2 separate regions of the Homo sapiens genome follow, and region 1 is linked to region 2. Evidence: fine-mapped expression QTL. A gene starts in region 2. The other region holds a variant in brackets. All regions are shown on one strand. Distances are from middle to middle. Region 1 holds the start of FLAD1 (flavin adenine dinucleotide synthetase 1). Region 2 holds the start of ZBTB7B (zinc finger and BTB domain containing 7B).

Region 1 (5,468 bases), 22 kb before region 2:
CAGCAGAGTCAGGGATGGGTCCATTATATGATCCATGAACCAGGTCAGTGCACTGGCTAAAAACAACCATATAGAACTGCTACACTGAGAGAATGAAAGAATAAGATTGTATAACCCAAATAGGGAGATAGGAAATGGTTTACTGGTTCCTTCCCCCTCCAGTCGTGGGGGATTTTTTTAAAAAAAAACTAGTGACCAAAAATAAGACTAAAATATCTGGGAAGTTCAGAGACAACCTGTCACTGAAAAACCTCCTGTAATCTTTCATTCAATCAGAGGGTATTCTTTTTAAGGCCACATATAGCCTGATCATAGCCCCTGCCTCATTCTCCATCGAAAACATTCTTGGATGTGTTCTAAATAAGCAAAGGAAAGTATATTTATTGATAAGACACCAGACACCCAGCTGCCAGGCAAAACTAATAAGGGACACCCTGGGGCTGTATAAACATAGCAAAAGAACTGATATTAACAATTCTGTACTTGGCAGACAGTCCAGACTTCTGGGTCTGCTTCTAAGGCCATATGCTTAAGTCTTTATTTAGTTATAAAGATCTGAGTGGGTGATAGCTGGGGAGGTGGTAGTGGAATACACTATAGGTTGTACATAGAATGGTGTGAGCTTGTCTCTTAGATTTCCCTCACTCTTTCAGAACCTCACATCTTGCTGTTCCGGCGCCCACTACCCAAGAAACCAAAGAAATGAAGCTGGCAAGCTACTTTTCAGCCTCAAGCTTTACACAGCTGTCCTTACTTCCTAACATCTTTCTGATAACATTATTATGTTGCCTTCTTGTTTCTCACTTTGATATTTAAAAGATGTTCAATACACTGTTTGAATGTGCTGGTAACTGCTTTGCTTCTTGAGTAGAGCCACCACCACCATAGCCCAGCCAGATGAGTGCTCTGTGGACCCACAGCCTAAGCTGAGTGTGACCCCAGAAGCCACGATGTGCTCTGTATCCAGAACACACTTGGCAGATGGAGGAAGCATCTGAGTTTGAGACCATGGCTGTTACAGGGATCATGTAAACTTGCTGTTTTTGTTTTTTCCTGCCGGGTGTTGTATGTGTGGTGACTTGCGGATTTATGTTTCAGTGTACTGGAAACTTTCCATTTTATTCAAGAAATCTGTTCATGTTAAAAGCCTTGATTAAAGAGGAAGTTTTTATAATCTAGTGCTGTAATTGTACGGGTTTTTTCCCCCTCACTCAGGGTGAGCATCATCAATATCATGGTTCTAATTATATGCCCTTCAGTTTGATAATGAAGCTCAGCTCTTTGCTGATAATGAGGTTTAACATTGAGATAACTGGTTTTTAATCTACTTTAAGCAGACTTGCTGTCAAACATCTACTGAAATATATTTCACTCTAACTACTAGCCTGAGGTAGAGGTTATATAGGGACAACTTCATCTCATCCAAACAAATGAACTGCTTCCTACAGTCGGGGTGCTGCCTTTAACATAGTCCCAATATTTGAATGGCACACATGGATAAAAGGATGCTGTCAGTCAGGGGCTGCTTGTGTGTCCCAATTCCTAATAGGAATAATAGGCATATCTATGACCTATTCACTGTGCCCCTTGGTTGGGGAAGGTTTTCAGCTGTTCTTAACTTGGCTTGGGCGTTGGAATCACCTGGGGAGCTTTACAAGTACTGATGCCTGCCTGAGTCATTCTTAAGGATTCTTAATTGGTCTGGAGTGTGGACTGGGGGTAAAGATTTCAGGCATCTTATGCAGGTAGGTAAAGAACTAAGCTTTGAGAAAACAGGTGCAAAATGTAGCTGTTTAAGAAAACATTCCAGGCCACACGTGGTGGCTCACACCTGTAATCCCAGCATTTTGGGAGGCTAAGGAGGGCAGATCACTTGAGGTCAGGAGTTCGAGACCAGCCTGGCCAACATGGTGAAACTCCCGTCTCTATTAAAAATACAAAAATTAGGCTGGGTGCAGTGGCTCATGCCTGTAATCCCAGCACTTTGGGAGGCTGAGGTGGGTGGATCACCTGAGGTCAGAAGTTTGAAACCAGCCTGGCCAACATGGTGAAACCCCATCTCTACTAAAACAAAATTAGCCGGGCGTGGTGGCACACGCCTGTAATCCCAGCTACTCCGGAGGCTGAGGCAGGAGAATCACTTGAACCTGGGAGGCAGAGGTTGCAGTGAGCTGAGATCACGCTATTGCACTTCAGCTTGGGCAACAAGAGTGAAACTCTGTCTCAAAAAAATAAAAATAAATTAGCCGGGCGTGGTGTGTGCCTGTAATCCCTGCTACTCAGGAGGCTGAGGTGAGAGGATCGCTTGAACCCGAGAGGCAGAGGTGAAAGTGAGCCAAGATCACACCACTGCACTCAGCCTGGGCGACAGAAGCTGTGTCTCAATTTAAAAAAAAAACATTCCACAGAATAATAACTTCCCCTCTAGTCTAACAAAACAGTAGTACTAAGTGGCCGGGCGTCGTGGCTCACGCCTGTAATCACAGCACTTTGGGAGGCCGAGGCTGGCGGATCATGAGGTCAGGAGATCGAGACCATCCTGGCTAACATGGTGAAACCCTGTCTCTACTAAAAATACAAAAAAATTAGCTGGGCAAGGCGGTGGGCGCCTGTAGTCCCAGCTACTCGGGAGGCTAAGGCAGGAGAATGGCGTGAACTCGGGAGGCGGAGCTTGCAGTGAGCCGAGATTGCGCCACTGCACTCCAGCCTAGGCGACAGAGCCAGACTCCGCCTCAAAAAAAAAAGAAAAAAAAATACTAGTACTAAGTAAGGATATTAATCTCCCCCATTTTTCCTGTCTTCCATCCACTTATTCCTAAAATAGCAGGCATCAACATCGGGAAAATTCATTAGAAATGCAAATTATTGGGCAACAACCTAGACCTACTGAATCCTAAACTCAGGATTGGGCACAGCAATGTTTTAACAAGCTCTCCAGCTGATTCTGATGTACACTTAAGCTTGAGAATCCACTAGGAAAATACTGGAACAGTCTTGGTATTCTGTTTTGGGAGGGGATCAAATATCACCTGTATTGCTAATAAAGATATTGGAACATGTGGTTTACTAGGCAAGTGGAATTCTTGTTTTGCCCTTTTTTTTTTTTTCAAAGAGCTGACTTTTTATAATTGAAAGAAATGAGGGCCAAGTACGGGGGCTCACACCTGTAATCCCAATACTTTGGGAGGCCAAGGCAGGGAATCACT[T/G]GAGCCCAGGAGTTCAAGACCAGCCTGCGCAACATGACCAAACTCCGTCTCTACTAAAAATACAAAAATTAGCCAGGCATGGTGGGGCGCCCCTGTGGTCCCAGTTACTCTGGAGTCTGAGATGGGAGGATCACTTGAGCCCAGGAGGTCGAGGCTGCAGTGAACGGTGCTTGCGCCACTGCACTCGAGCCTGGGCAACAGAGAGACCCTGGTTCAAAAAAAAAAAAGGGAGGGGGGGCTTATTACTTAAAAGAATGGTCTAGACACCTGATCACCTGGGTCCACCATTCACTGTGTTTTGTGGTTGTGTGGCATCCCTTCACCTTTCTGAGCCTGTTCCTCATCTGTAAAATGAGCATGATGTGTATCTTACAGGGTATTTTTTTTCTTTTTGATGGAGCCTCGTTCTGTCGCCCAGGCTGGAGTGCAGTGACACAATCTCGGCTCACTGCAAGCTGCGCCTCCCGGGTTCACGCCATTCTCCTGCCTCAGCCTCCTGAGTAGCTGGGACTACAGGCTCCCGCCACCACGCCCGGCTAATTTTTTGTGTTTTTAGTAGAGACGGGGTTTCTCCATGTTGATCAGGCTGGTCTCCAGCTCCTGACCTCAGGTGATCCGCCCGCCTCGGCCTCCCAAAGTGCTGGGATTACAGGCGTGAGTCACCGCGCCCGGCCTTTTTTTCTTTTTTTCAATTGAGAGAACTCAAGCAATCCTCCCTCCTCAGACTCCCAAAGTGCTGCGCCCGACCAAGGGTTTTGAAGAGTAAAATTTGGCAAGGTGTGGTTTACCAGTCCTACAAAGAATGAATTCGGCCCGGCGCGGTGGCTCACGCCTGTAATCACAGCACTTTGGGAGGCCGAGGCGGGCGGATCACGAGGTCAGGAGATCGAGACCATGCTGGCTAACACAGTGAAACCCCGTCTCTACTAAAAAAAAAATGAAAATAAAAAAATTTTTAAAAAAAAGCCGGGCATGGTGGCGGGCGCCTGTAGTCCCAGCTACTCGGGAGGCTGAGGCAGGAGAATGGCGTGAACCCGGGAGGCGGAGCTTGCAGTGAGCCGAGATCGCGCCACTGCACTCCAGCCTGGGTGACAGAGGGAGACTCCGTCTCAAAAAAACAAAGAATGAATTCGGGCCCTTACCATTCAAAATGTAGTCCATAGAGCAGTGGGATCACCATCACATGGGAACTAGCTAAATGCAGATCTCAGGCCCCACCCAAACCTACTGAATCAATCTGCATATGAAAAGATCCCCAGATTATTGTTGGAAAAAAGTTTAAGATGTACTTTTAGAACAAAGGCAACTGAAATGGGGGTAAGCTCGGATGATGTGAGGATCCAGAGTAAACATGTAAGGCACTCCCTATTCGCTGCCTCATTTGCACCTACAAGACCAATTACTGGGAAAGGTCATTTGAACTAAGCACCATCTGGAGCAAGGTGGAGGAAGAGAGGGTTTTTGGACTCTTTCTTGTCAAAGAGATTTAAGTAATTCGTTTTGTCTACTATACTAGAGATAAATTAAGGTTCCACACATCAAAAGCTCACCTACTCCAGGGTCTTCATATCCGACAGACAGTGGTAATAATCTTTCTCGGTGTCCCTCCAACTTCCTTCTGCTATAAATAAGATGCTTTCTCACTCCAGTAAAAGCCCTTAGCCTAGTGTTAGAGTCACGGTGAATGAAAACAGCTTAAACCATGGCTAACTGACCCATTAAACAAAACAAAACAAAGCAACACATGCATAACAATTATTTGAATCCAGCACCAGAAACTCCCCGAGGGCCTTACAGCACCTTTAACTACGGCTCCTTTCCCGCCCTAAACTCCCGAGGTCCCGCCCCCGACCGTGGGCTAAGGTCCGGCCCCCGTATTTCCGGGCGAGAAGTGACCACGTGGTTGTCGCCTATAACAATCCGGCCCTGCTCCCATCCACTGGCTAAAGCCTGAGAGCGACAGTTGAATACACCAATGGGACCCTGGAAGAGTCTAAGCGACAGCCAAAATCACCATTCAATGTCAGCTAGGTGCAAGGCGGGACTTTAAGTACGGAAGCTGCCCCGGGACATGAGGAAAGGAACAAGGGAAAGAGCCGGTGAAGGGGCAGAACAGGCAGGTGAGAGTCTAAGAGGGCTCAGTAATCTGAAGCTTGGTGGGAAGAAGGGATTCTGGGCTAGAAAGGGTGCAGAAGCCTGAAGTAGAAAGAGACGGGATTTTGGTCCGGGGTGGAGAGCGAATGCATTGAAAAGGGCCAAGGC
Region 2 (5,000 bases):
CCCCCCCGCCCCCCGCCCCCTGCCCCCCGCCCCCTTTCCTTGGCTATCCTCCTTCCTCCCCAAAGCAGCCCCCTCTCCATTTCACTTGTGGCACTGCCGCCTAGCCCCTAGCACAGCCCTTCACCAGGCCTGCACGACCCAGACGGCTGGAGTAGGAAGGGGAAAACCCCGGCCTGGACGGCTCCGGGCCCCTCCGGACCAGGATCTGTCCGGCGGGGCTGAGAAGAAAACCCGGAGCAGTGATCAGCCTCGCGACCCAAGGGGGTCAGGGACGATAGGAAAACCCGGAGCGGATTACTCGAGCCAGAGCGCCCCATGCCTGCCGCTACCTCCTCCTTCCTATAGCCCCCCTAATTCTCCAGTGAGATAATGTCTGGGGTGGGGGGCTGTTTGGTTTGGCCTGAGCCCTCAGGGGCGCCTCACACTTTCCGCCCCTGGCTGGGGCGCAGGGCAGCGGCCCCGAGGCTGAGTCACGGCCCGGCGCGGAGAGGGAGAGAGGGAGAAAGAGGGAGGGAGGGACCTGGACTCCGCCCCTCGTGCGCGGGGATCCCGGGTCAGCCCGGGTGAGGGCCAGGGCCCCCCTGGCGCCGCCCATTGTGGTCCAACAGGTTGAGCTGGTGTCCCGAGAAGCCACCTGCTGGAAAGGGAGGGAGGCCCCCTGCGGAGGGGGGTTGGGAGGGGAAAGCGAGTCCGACCCGGTTCGGCCTGGCTTGTCGCAGGGGAGCCAAACCTGGCCCTAGGTAGCCGGATTTGATTCCATTTGACACTAGTGGGAGGGGCCCTTTGGGGTACGCAGCTCCGCAGGCTCAGTCAGAAACATCCTTCACCCGCTACCTTTCTCAGTTGGGGGACTCCTAAGTATTTATCCCGGTCCTCCCCAAAACCTACACATACCACACATCCCAAAACATCCAGGCACCCCTCGCCACCTGGGTCTCTCAGCGAATTCATGTCAAGCTATCCCTCCTCGGTGGAGACTCAGTTTCTCCACTTAGGGAACCCGCGGGATGGAGGTGGGGAGCAAAAGCGTCGGCGCGCCCCCTCCCCCTTCGCAGACTGGGCCCCTCCCCTCCGACAATGCCAAGGCCGCAGCGGGCACTGGCGACAGCACAGAGGCTGCTTGCCTGGGGCGCCCTTCCCTCCCCGCGGGGCACCGTCACGCGTGGGGAGGGACGCAGGGCGCCCGCAGGCTCAACTCCCCGGCTCCCTCCGAGAGGGGGTGGGGCGTAGGGGCCGGAGCCGAAGGCCTGGTGGCTCCCCCTCCCCCTCCCTTCTAGGTCCCTGACCTGATTACAGCCCCTCACGGGACCCCCTCCCTCAAGACCCTAAGTCCCCAATTCACCCCCACCCAGCCTATCCCTAACCTCTCATACCCTTCCCTCCTGAGGTCCTGACCCTACAGAAGCCCCTCTTGAAGGAGAGGGAGCCCCTGTAGGGGGTGCTCGATTCCCTGGCCGCTGCGGACACTGCCCCCTCCCCCCTCCTCTCCAGGTTCCAGGCCAGCCCCTCGGCTCCGCCCCCTCCCTGGACGAACGCAAGGCGAGACCTACTGGAGATGAGCGGGTATTCAGGCCAATGAGCGGACAGGGCGGTGGCGTGCAGGGGGCGGGCAGAGCAGCAGCAAAGGGCTGGATGGGGGCCGGGGGCGGAGTTTGAGTTAAGGTGGACTGGGAGAGATAGGGGCAGGAGAAAGGGGGGGGAGAGAGGGACCGCGGCAGGTGAAGGGAGACAGAGAGAAGGAAAGAAGGAGGGAAAGGAGGAGGGTGGGAAAGGCTAGGAGAGCTAAGTAAGAGTTTGGAGAAGGGGGCAAAAAAGGAGGGAGGGACCCATCTGCGCTCTGCAGGGACTGGCTGGACGAAGGGGTTGAAGTTTATGTCCTTATTGGGCGGAGGGAGGGGGCCTGGGGGGGCGGGTGAAAAACCAGGAAGTGACAGAGGGTGTTTCTAAGTGTTGGGGGGGGGGAGTTTGGGGGGTGGCAGGGGCGGGGGGAGGGAGGGGAGGGATGGGGGGAAAGCAAGCTGGAGGACAGGTGAGACAGCAGGACAGGTGAGGCGGGCCCTGAGGGGGGGGCGGGTGGGAGCCAGGTGAATGTACGGCTCTTGGCGGCCGAGGGGGGGCGGGCGGCAGGAGGAGGCAGAGGGCGGCGGAGGAGGAGCCCCCCAGCAGCGAGCGGCGAGCAACTGACCGCGGCCTTCTGACCAGGACCGGAGCAGGGCCCCAAGCCCCCGGGCCTGGTGGGGGACGCGCTTCTTCCCACACTGTGAGCCTCAGCAGCTCCAGCCAGCGGACCCGACGGCTGAGAGGTGAGTGTACCCCACTTTTGTCTCCTGGCTCGGGGTTCACTAGGCTCGAGACTACTGCAGTGTCCTTCGTCCGTCCTGTAAGTGGGACCCCCAGATACACACGCATGCAGATCACATTCCCACCACTCCCCTTCCCTGTGCTTTCCCAACACCCCGGGTCTCTGGAATTGGTTTTAACTGAGATGAAAGACAGAGAAGGAACTGCGGATGCCCCCCAACCCTAGGCGGAGGGTCCCCAGAAAGTTTATCTGCACTTCTCCTGGGATCAGACAGACAGACGGCTTCGGGATGGAGAGGGGGTGAGGCGACGCTGAGCGTTCCCCCAGTCTCCTTCGTGACTTTAGGGGGAGACCCCAGACCGGACTGAGTTGAGGGAATGGAAACGCTGACGGACTCTAACTAGGACAACGCGCACCCCCCCCCCACCCCGCGCCCCCTGGCGCGGTGGATTGGCCCCAGGCCAGTTGCATGGGGGTTGGGGGGGCGCAGGAGGAGCCGCGGCTTGGGGGAAAGTTACCGGCTGGACTATTCGGTTTCTTGCGCTTCCAGAGCCGCGCTCTCTCCAGCGGTAGTGGGGCTCAGCAACAACCTCTGAACCGACATAGAACGACCGCTCTCTTCCCTGCCCCTCAATCCCACTCCCTTCCTTCAGGCTCCAGTCCCGCCGCTACCTTTTCCACGCCAGCTCATGACCACAGAACCCAAGAGCGAGGGCGGGTGACTAGGAAGAATTCTCCTACCTACTACCCGTCCCCCCACCGGCGCCGGCGCACCTGCCCCAGCCCAGAGTGGGGGTCGCTACTGTGTTGTTGTAGAACCTACAGAGTGCGCCTGGCAGAAGGCTGCCATTCAAAGGGGTGGGGGGCGCTGCTTTCAATTTCCAGCTTTCTCTCCCTCCTCCCACCCCATCCCAAGTAAGAGAGCGACGTGTCCCGGCCAGAGCGAGGTGGGGGCGGGAGTGGGGGGGCGGCGTGGGCAGCGGGTTGTGCCCGGACACGTGCCTGCCCAGGCGCCCCGGCCCTGCTGGTGTTTAGAGAGAGGGCGGGTCCCCTGCCCCCCGCCCCGCACAACCCCCACGTATCAAAGGGCGGCTGAGACATGGTGAGACCTCGGGGCGCCCTGGGGGGCAGGGGGGCGGGGAGCCTGGGTCCGGAGCAGGGGAGGGGCAGAGGCGCCGGTGCTAGCTGACCCACAGGAAACGAGCGCTGCTGACCTAGTTTGGGACACCGGAAGTGGGTGCTGGGGAGAGGGGGAGACCGGCAGGCTGTCCAGGCTTCCGGGCCAGGTGGAGGGTGTTCTTGAATTGACCCCCGCCCGAATGCCTTGGAGACCCCTAGCTGCAGCCGAGAATGGGAATGAGTCAGCGCAGCTATTCCCCCTTCCCCCAACTTATTCCTGGAGGAGGGAGACCGCTTATCAGGGACGGGGGAACCAGATTGGGCTGTGAGGGGTTAAAGCAGGATGGGAACTGTCTGGTCCCTAAGGGAGTATGTGTGAGTGTGGGGATGAGGCCTGGAGGATTATGGGGTTGCCTCCTGCTGCCCCACACACACCAACTGGTTTGGTCACCCCTGTACCCGCCTGGCACTGCTGGGAGAGCTGGCATGGAGTGGACATCAGGTTGGGGAGGAGAGAGTGGGCATAAGGAGTGTTGTGCTGCGCTAGAGAGGGACATATGTGTGACTATGTCTGGATGATAGTTAGTGTTCCTCCTTAGTGGTAACTGGGGAGAAGGGTAGGGGGCTCCCCCTGGAGCAGCTGATGAAACAAGGAGAAATCTCTGTCAGTGCCTCTGTCCCTGGCCCCAGGGACCCCAGCTCCCCCAGCGTGCCTCTGTTACATGGTTGCTGTGGGCACAACACAACCTGCTGGCACCCCCAGACACTGTCCCCTCCCTTGGGTACCACACACCCCCAGCCCTGGCACAGGGGTCAAAAAGGGGTTAATACCACCAGAATGGGGCTCTGGGGAAGAAAGAAGGCAGTGCCCACTAGGCTCAGGTGTCAAGGAGACAGGCTTGCTCTAATGGGACTCTCATCACTACTCAGTTCTGGCTGATGTAGACCCCAGTGTCTGGAAGACAGGTGCTGTCCCCTTCTTCTTCCCCATGGTGCCCCCTGGCACCCAGGGCCCCCAGCTCCTCCTTGGCCTAGTGCCTGCCCAGGGAGGGTGCGGCGGGCAGCGGGGGCTGGGCTAACAATGCACCATCAGGCCCTTTGTGTGCCTGCACTTGGCACCCTGGGGAAGGGTGGGGGAGGGGGCCCAGCAGGCATGGGGGGCGGAGCGCTCTGGGGTGGGGACAGTGAAGGCTGGGGGAGAGAAGCAAATGAAAGCAGGTGGGGAGGAAAGGGAAGTAGGTCAGATAGGGTGCCAGCCCCCCATTCCAAGCCAAGGCTGAGAGAACCAGCCCCTGATCCTATGGCTGCCTGGATGGCATCAGACTGAGGGACAGCCTAGGACTGGGCATTTGGGGTCAGAAGTCACTGCCCAGGGGACTGCTCAGATGGAGAAGGTTTGGCCTGGTACTGCCCCCTTCTTAATGGCTGAGAGACCCAATTCTTCTGGCCCAAGACCAAGGCCCCAAGATGAGTAGTGAATGGGCTCCAGGCAGGGCACTGCCCTCTGACAGAAGCCTCTGGGCCTGCTGCGGGGCTTCCTGCCTCTGCCCCGCTTGGCTCCCTGACCTTCCTGAGAGTT

The links. PIP is the estimated chance that this variant, and not a neighbour inherited with it, causes the effect.
Region 1: its variant is the best candidate, but not a certain one, in a credible set for the expression of ZBTB7B in whole blood (TOPMed, PIP 0.83).

Annotation. Positions count from the first base shown.
Region 1 is chr1:154,978,072-154,983,539 of GRCh38, forward strand. CKS1B (CDC28 protein kinase regulatory subunit 1B) reads left to right here. Exons shown (of 3, transcript NM_001826.3): 2 at 1-43; 3 at 654-1,180. The coding sequence ends at 706. It overlaps FLAD1 (flavin adenine dinucleotide synthetase 1), which reads left to right and starts at 5,273. Exons shown (of 7, transcript NM_025207.5): 1 at 5,273-5,468. RefSeq lists enhancers at 3,328-3,925, 4,526-5,123 and a silencer at 5,006-5,185. The variant T/G (reference allele first, on the strand shown) is at 3,207.
Region 2 is chr1:155,000,641-155,005,640 of GRCh38, forward strand. It overlaps ZBTB7B (zinc finger and BTB domain containing 7B), which reads left to right and starts at 2,162. Exons shown (of 3, transcript NM_001256455.2): 1 at 2,162-2,303. RefSeq lists silencers at 281-360, 441-660, 1,061-1,300, 1,411-1,600, 3,311-3,430 and 2 more and an enhancer at 4,134-4,806.